2 linked regions of the Homo sapiens genome follow. The protein of the gene in region 2 interacts with the protein of the main gene of each other region in a pairwise test. Each region holds a gene or a part of one and is shown on either strand. Other genes may lie near its edges.

Region 1 (3,500 bases), on a different chromosome or scaffold from region 2:
TTCAAGTATCTGGTTTCCTGGTAACAGGCAATGCTTAAATAAGTTCCCAAAACACCTTTATAGAATTATAAACTTTGCTTAGAAAACAATTAAATTCACTGGTATGTGATCTACCTTGAAATCTATGAGTTGAACTATCACTTATCATTGTTTGATTTGGTAATCATTCATCGAGCCACTTCCATGTTGTAGGGACTGTCATAGCCACTGGGGGAAAATGATTGCACTATGGGCTTGTAGTCAAGCAATTCTCTGGACTTTATTTCTTCATCTTTAAAATATGGAAAGTTAAATGACATGTCCCTTAGAGCCTCTCCAATGAAGAAATTCTATGAAGTGTTGTCTCCAAGTACATATTAAAGGAAAAGATATAAATTATAACTGCTTTCTCTTTTGACAGATTTGTGCACATATGTGTATTCCTTTCTCACTTTCTGCAGTACAAGGAGACCATGAATAATATATACTAAAAAGCTTTCAATCCGCTATTAACATCTTTGTAAAAGTATCATCAAAGGTTATATTTCAGTGGTGGAGAGTTTATTTGTATGTTAACATTTTAGATTTTTATTGCTTTGAAAGGTTAATTCAAAGAATGACCTGTTAACTGCCCTGATTGCAGCCTTGTGATCATTTCTGTAATATCTAACAATTAAACTCATTGAAAAAAGAAGAGAAAATAATGTTTGCTGGCTAAAATATTACTGTTTAAAAAAATGAAACAGACACAAATTTTCTAATTTACAAATCAAATTATTTTGTTTCACACCATAAAAAGTAAAATCTACTTTTTGAAACTCATTAGAAAGCATTTACATTTCATTCTCAGACTTTTGCCAAAAGATACCTTAAAATATCCATGCGCATTATTTCTCTGTCCTAGCCAAAATGTTGTGCCTAGAGGCAAGTCTGTGGAGGGCTTTTCTACTACCCTTTCATAAATTCTGCAAAAAAGAAACATCAAAGAAGGAACGTGAGTAGACAGTCATTTCTTAGAATCTTCCATTTCCTAAAATGAGGACACTACACTTACTTATTGCAGTCAATGTGTAAAATCAAATGGGAAGCACTGATGGCTAAGGAGAGCTTGTGCCACTTGTCATCAGCCAAAATGTAAGGAAACACTTCTGTGTGAGGGCGGTGACTGCCTGAGCGGTAATGCAGTCTGACTTCATTCCGATGGCCACTACTTTCCAGTTCCAGGTACCTGCAGAGAGAAGAGCCACATGGGACACATTAAAAATAAAGTTCAAAAACGATTGAAGTGATCTCTGTCTACGGGATGGAATAGATGTACTTTTCCTAGTTCTCCCACTAAGTACAACTAGACATCATATACAAAACAAACACAGAAGAATCTAGAAGATAGAGAAAAAAAGATATTCAGGATCCAAGGAACAATATGGTAGTGAGTTCAATGGGTTTCCATTTTGTGTCATATATCCTGGACTTGGAGCTAAAGAAGGCTTCAATCTGGAAATATCAATGAATGTAGACCTAAAAAATCCTCAAGATGAGCCTGCTTTCTCTAGCTGAAGAACAAAGAAAGGATCAGTCTAGCAAGACAGAAACTGCTAGATAATAATCTCTCTGTTCCAGTCAAACATCACAGAAAAAACTGGCCCCATCCCAAACCATGCCAAACAAAAGCTAAGTAAGAAGCTTATATTTCTACCCTGTTCAAGCAGAAATGAGGCATGTAACACCAGAATAGTGTCAGAGAAGGCCAAGTTTAGAGCCAAGAATTTTAACCCTCCCAGGCAGTAATGAGGCCCCCCACAGCACTAGTGAAGACCATACAATGAGGAGCCTGGACTTCCATCTCATCTTGGAAGTAATGAAGCACACTTCCCTTTCCCCGCTGGGATAGTATCAAAGGAAGCCTACTAAGGAGTCAGGAGTTTTATAGTCATCCAGCAGTAATGAAACCACCCCGCCACAGTGCCAGCAGAAACCATATAGGAAGCTGAAACTTCCCCCAACTCAGAAATAAAAGAAGCTTCCCCCTCAACTGTCAACAAAGGCAAGTGGGGAATCTAGACTTCTACCTCCACCTGGCAGTAACAAGATGGCACCCTCCCTTCCCCTGACAAAGCAGTGTCAGAGAAAGCTGGCTAAAACAGGCGGGTTAAATAAGATTCAAGTCTCAGAACATGATACAAACATGTCCAGGTTTCAGTAAAAAATCATTCATTATACCAAGAAGCAAAGAAATCTCCAACAGATTGTAAAAAGAAAAAGAACAGATATCAAGACTAAAATGATAAGGATGTTAGAATTACCCAACAAATATTTTACAGCAGCACTGACAAAAACAATTATGAAAAGACTTAAATGAAAAAAATAGAAAGTTTCAATAAAGAAAAAGAAAAATGGGAAAAAAAATTTAAAACCAAATAGAAACTTCAGAACCAAAAAAATACAATAATGGAAATGAAAGCTCAGTGGATAAAGCTAAACAGCAGAATGGAAGTGACTGTGAAAAGAATCAGTTATCTGGAAGACAGAAAAAAAAGCATCCAATGTGACAAATAGAAGATAGACTGAAAAAAAAGTTGAACAGTCTTAAAGAGCTGTGAGATTATAACAAAAGATCTAACATTTGTATCACTAGCATCCGAGAAAGAGAGGAGAAAGGAGGCGAGCTTAAAAAACAATATTGAAGAAATAATGGCTGAACACCTCCCAAATTTGGCAAGAGATATAAACTCACAGATTCAAGAATCTAAGGAAACCCTAAACAAGATAAACTCAAAACAATTTTCAACTTCATATCAAGCCATATCATAATTAATCTTCTGAAAACTAAAAACAAAGAAAAAATTTGAAAGTAGACAGAGAAAATCTTGCACATTAAGTACAAGGAAAAATTAGAGTGACAGTGTGTTTCTCAGTAGAAACCATGGGAGCCATAAAGAAGTGGTAAAATATTTTTCATGTGACAAAAGCAAAAAGAGCTGTACACGTAGAATTGTATACCCAGCAAAAACATCCTTCAGGAATGAAGAGAAATCAAGACATTCTCAGATAAAGGAAAACTAAGAGAATTTATCATGAGAAGACCTATTTTAAAAGAACAGCAAAATAATGACCTCTAAACAGAAAGAAAAATATAAAATAAAAAGCTTTGGAACATCAGGAAGGTAGAAAGAACATAGTATGTAAAAAAGAAAAATGGGTAAATACAATAAGCTTTCCTTCTCCTCTTTTCTAAAGTATGTTTGACAACTGAAGCAACAGCTCAAAATTGAAGCAAAAGAGTCTGTGTCCTAAATGTATGTTAAACAATATTTAAAGAATTTATGTTATAAATGAGTGAGGGTAAAGAAACATAAAGACAGCTAAAATTTCTATACATCACTCAAACTGGTAAAATGACTATACGAACAATCAGTTATAAGTTATGTATATATAATGGAATACCTACAGCAACCACTTACAAAGCTATACAAAGAGACACACTCATAAACATACAGATAAAATGAAATTGTAAAACAAGT
Region 2 (4,148 bases):
CTGCGGCCACGGCGCCAGTGGCGGCCACAGGACAGCGCCGGGGCTCCTTGAGCAGCGCGCGGGCGTCGTCCTCCAGCAGCTCCTCCTCGTCGTCCTCCAGCAGTTCCTCTTCCTCGTCCTCATCTTCTTCGTCCTCCAGCAGCTCCTCCTCGTCGTCCTCGGTGCCGGTGCCACCACCCGCAGCCGGGGCGCTGCCCGGGCCGCCGGCCACGCCGAGGCGCTCCTCCGGGTGCGTGACGCCCCCCGGGCCGCCCAGCTCGTCCAGCGCGGGCGGCGGCGGCACGAAGGGCGCCCCGTTCTCGCGGTACGACTTGCTGCGGCTGATGCTCACCTGCGGCGCCTGGCTGATCTTGAGCGTGTCCCAGGCCGCGGCGGCCGCGGCCGCGGCTGCCGCGGCGGCCCCTGCGCCGTCCGGCCGTTCCCCGGGCCGCGCGGTTGGCGGTGGCGGCGGAGGGGCCTCCCCGCGTGGACCCGCCGTGGCCGTGGCGGCCGCTGCCGCCGCCGCCGCCGCCGCCGCCGCCGCCGCTGCCGCACCCTGAAGGAGGCGGCCCCCGCCCGGGCCGTACAGGCGCCGCAGCTTGGGCGGCAGGTGCAGCTCGGCCTCGAACGGGGCGCTGCTGCTCTTAGGGGAGCCTGCGGGCAAGGGAGAGCTATCAGCCAGCCGGCCGGCCGGGGAGTCCCAGCCAGGGCTGCTGCCGGGGCCCGCCCGCAGTTGCTCCCCCAGTGCCTAGGCCCAGGCGTGCGGGGACCGCGCACCACCAGACTTCGACGCCTTGGCCTCTTTCTCCACTTTTCTTGCTTTTTCTTTTTCTTTCTTTCTCTCCTTCTCCCTTTCTCTGGGTTCCTTCTTTTTTCCCCTTTCCTCTCCCTTCTTTCCGTTCCCTCTCTCACTCTCCCCCTTTTATTTCCTATCTTCCTTCCCTTATCTATTCCTCTTGCCCCTCTCTCCCTTCCTTTTCTCTCCTTACCTTTTTTCTTTTTCTTTCTCCCCCTCCCTTCTTTTCCTCACCTCTCTTTCTCCTTCTCTCCCCCTTTCTTTCTCTTTTTGCAGGCTTTCTCTCCCCTCTCTCCTTCTTTCTTCTTTATTCCTTTCTCTTTCCCCTTTCCTACTCTCTCATTTTTATTTCCCTTCCCACGTCGGGGCAGAGGAAAATCCGAAAACATTCTACAACTTTAAAAGAAAATCACCACTATCCTGAAAACTTTGCGCATGACCTCTGCCCGCTGCTCCACCATGAGGGCAAGGGTTGGCAAGAGGGGTGCAGCCCTGAAGGCGACCGCTGCGGGGCGGGGTGGGGGAAAGCGGCCCTGTGGCCCCAAGTGCAGGCCGCGCCCCAACAGCCCACAGCGGGAGAGGGTGGGGGGGCTTCTTGCACAAAAAGGCAAAGAAAAATCATCCTGGCAAAAATGTTCTGGGAAAGGTCTGGGGCAGAGAGGGAGTGGGAGTGCAGCAGGCGCAGGCCGCTCCTTCCTTTTGAGGAAGCGCCTGGCATAGGTGCCACTGCAGGCTAAAAAAAGAAAAGAAAAAAGTCAGTTTTATTTAAATGCCCCCTTCTCAACCGTCTGCTCCTGCCATCCAAATTGCGCTATGGCCGGACCGCTGGTTTTTGGATTTTAAAAGAAACCAACAGTTCTTTCCTTTCCCTGCGACACCTCTGCAGCAAGCTCGAGGCGAAACTTGAGGATAACAGGTTCGGGGTAAAAGGACATTTGTTCTGGAATTTTTAATTTCAGAAAAAAATAAAATATTTTAAACAGCTCGTCTATTTTAAAAAATAAAATAGCAGAGAAAAAATTAGCATCCAGAAGTCACACATTTCATACATTTTAAATACATTAAGGAGCATTTGGAGAATCCCAGGAAGATGTTTTCTGCAAAGCTTGGGTTTAAAAGGTCACAAGTAATCTGCAATTAAAAAAATAAAACCAAAACATTGCATATACAGAAATCTTCCAAAGAGGAAAGGCCAAGGCTCACTCAGCCTGGAGACCCCGATTCACCAGCTTTTGGGCTTCTTGTCTTCATCAAGTTGGTGCTACAAGGGTCCACCGGCCATCTACTGTTTCTGACCTGTCGCCGCTCTTCAGAGCACACCCAAGGCCACCAAAAGGGGCATTTAAACAACCTAACGATCAACACCGAAAAGCTAAAGGCTCCCTAAGCGAAAACGGGCCTTTTTCTGGAAGCAGGGAGGGAGGGAGGGAGAGACAGCCCTGGCTAGATGTTTAACGCTCTTTGAGGCAGCAGGCCTCAGAGTTATGCCCTCTCCTTCCTTCCTCTCCAAATTGACAATTCCAGGCCACTGGCCCCCGAACACCAAACATCCAAATCAGGGCCCAATGCCCTTAGTAAGTGCCTGACGGGAGCATCCTTACCTTGCACGGCCTTTTCCGGGTCGGCGCGGCTGGTCAGCGGAGCAGGCAAGCTCTGCGCGGCTCCCAGCAACCGCATTTTGCACGGGCTCCTCCGGCCCAGGATGCTGTCGATGCAGTAGGAGGAGAGCAAAGTTGGAGATTTACTTTTGCACTCGGGCCTCTCGGAGCAGCCCTCCTCCTGGTACTGATTGCTCATGGCTGGGGCTTTTTCCCAGGGCGCAGAGAGCGGATCGCCGGCTGCCTCTCCCGGAGGGTGGGATGGATGGGTGTGTGTTGGGGGTGGGGTTAGATAGCGGGTTATAACGGATATTATTGCGATCTTTGTGCCTTTCTGCCTCCCTTGGTTGCCGGCTGCCGGCTCCCGCCCTGCCCGCGGCCCGAGCTCGCCCTCTCCGCGCTCAGGACAAGCGGTAACAAGTGTAGTGAGCAGCGGGCGCTGAGCTCTGGAGTCTCTCTCCTCCACGTGCTGAGAGGCGCCCTCTGATTGGCTCTCGCCAGAGGCCGGGCTGCGTCGGCCTGTGGGCGCGGCGCAAAGCCCGGACTGGATTCCAGAGGGGCAGGCGGGGGTGGGGGCAGCGGGCACGCACCAGAGCCAATTTTCCTTTTCTTTCTTTCTTTTTTTAAGTTACCAATTTTCTAAGTCCGCTATCCTCTTCCTGCAGCTCCTCCTTTGACCCTTTAGTGTTGGCCGAAGTTCTAGCTTATTGGGATGCCAGGCCTGTGAATGCCATCTGGGTGGCGTGCGCCCCTTCCACCAACCCGAGGACCTCGCTCCCTGGAGGCGAGGCCTCGAGGCTCACGTTCAGACTCACTCGGCACTTTTCAAAGCCGATATTGGGCTCCCAGGACACCGCCTTGACCTCCCTGGCGCTCAATTGCCGTCCTCTCTAGGCCGGACGGGCGTCGGGGGGCCAGGGTGACCGCCCCAAGCAAACATCTGCCGTCTGGGAGTTCGCTTTTCTCTTGCGGCCCAAGGCATTGCGCTGTCTATCTTCACCCTGAGCCCGACTGTGTCTCTCTTGTTTGTAGCGTCCCCCAACCGCTCTCCTCTCCGTTTTAAACTCTGGAATGGGAAAAAGCCTCCTTACAGACAAAGCTCTGCCATAGGCGCGCGGCCTTCCCTAGAGCATTTACTGGGTGGGAAGGGACAGGCGAGTATCAGCAGCGAGGAGGGGCGACTGGGGACGAGTCTGGGGGCCTCCTCTTTCTCCCTGGACTCTCTTCCCTCTTTCCCCCACAAATTCGTATCTGTTAGGCCTTCACCCTGAGGCTGTTCACCTTCCAATCGCAGCTAGGGAGCAGAACCCTCAGGGATCCCTGACCTCTCCAGGGTGGAAGGAACCCAAATTCGGCTGCAGCCAAATCTAAGCGTCTAAAATTCTGAATTCTCATGACCTGGCTCCCTTGAGCAAAGGTGAGAGAGTGAACCTTAGAGAGAGCGCCTTTCTTCCCAAACAGTTTCCAGCGCCGAGAACTAAAACCCAACTCCAACTGATGTTGGGTCGAGCCTGGGCCAGCACGGACGCCTTCCCTGCCTGGGTGCAGGTTCCCAGGGATTTCCAGGGGCCCCAACGCTGGCAGAATTGGGGCGAAGGTGGTGGGTGAGAGAGGGGCCAGGGAGGGGGAATCCACGCCGGGTTTTCCTCTCTCAACTCCCTTCAATGTGTCAAAGAGAAAAGCATTTTACAAAGGATTATACTTGAATCACTTACAGTCAGTATTTAAAAATACAAGGATGCATAACTGGGATTTTTTTTTTTCAGCCATAAACA

What was found.
Region 1: the proteins of ARX (region 2) and NELL2 interact in a two-hybrid assay, tested with the Homo sapiens proteins (one large-scale study listed by BioGRID and IntAct).

What each region holds. Positions count from the first base shown.
Region 1 is NC_000012.12:44,778,816-44,782,315, forward strand, and holds part of NELL2 (protein kinase C-binding protein NELL2 isoform b precursor), read right to left. Parts: intron 1,208-3,500; coding exon 1,034-1,207; intron 945-1,033; coding exon 848-944; intron 1-847. UniProt on the Homo sapiens protein: Plays multiple roles in neural tissues, regulates neuronal proliferation, survival, differentiation, polarization, as well as axon guidance and synaptic functions.
Region 2 is NC_000023.11:25,013,166-25,017,313, forward strand, and holds the start of ARX (homeobox protein ARX), read right to left. Parts: upstream 2,801-4,148; 5' UTR 2,573-2,800; coding exon 2,377-2,572; intron 634-2,376; coding exon 1-633. UniProt on the Homo sapiens protein: Transcription factor. Binds to specific sequence motif 5'-TAATTA-3' in regulatory elements of target genes, such as histone demethylase KDM5C. Positively modulates transcription of KDM5C.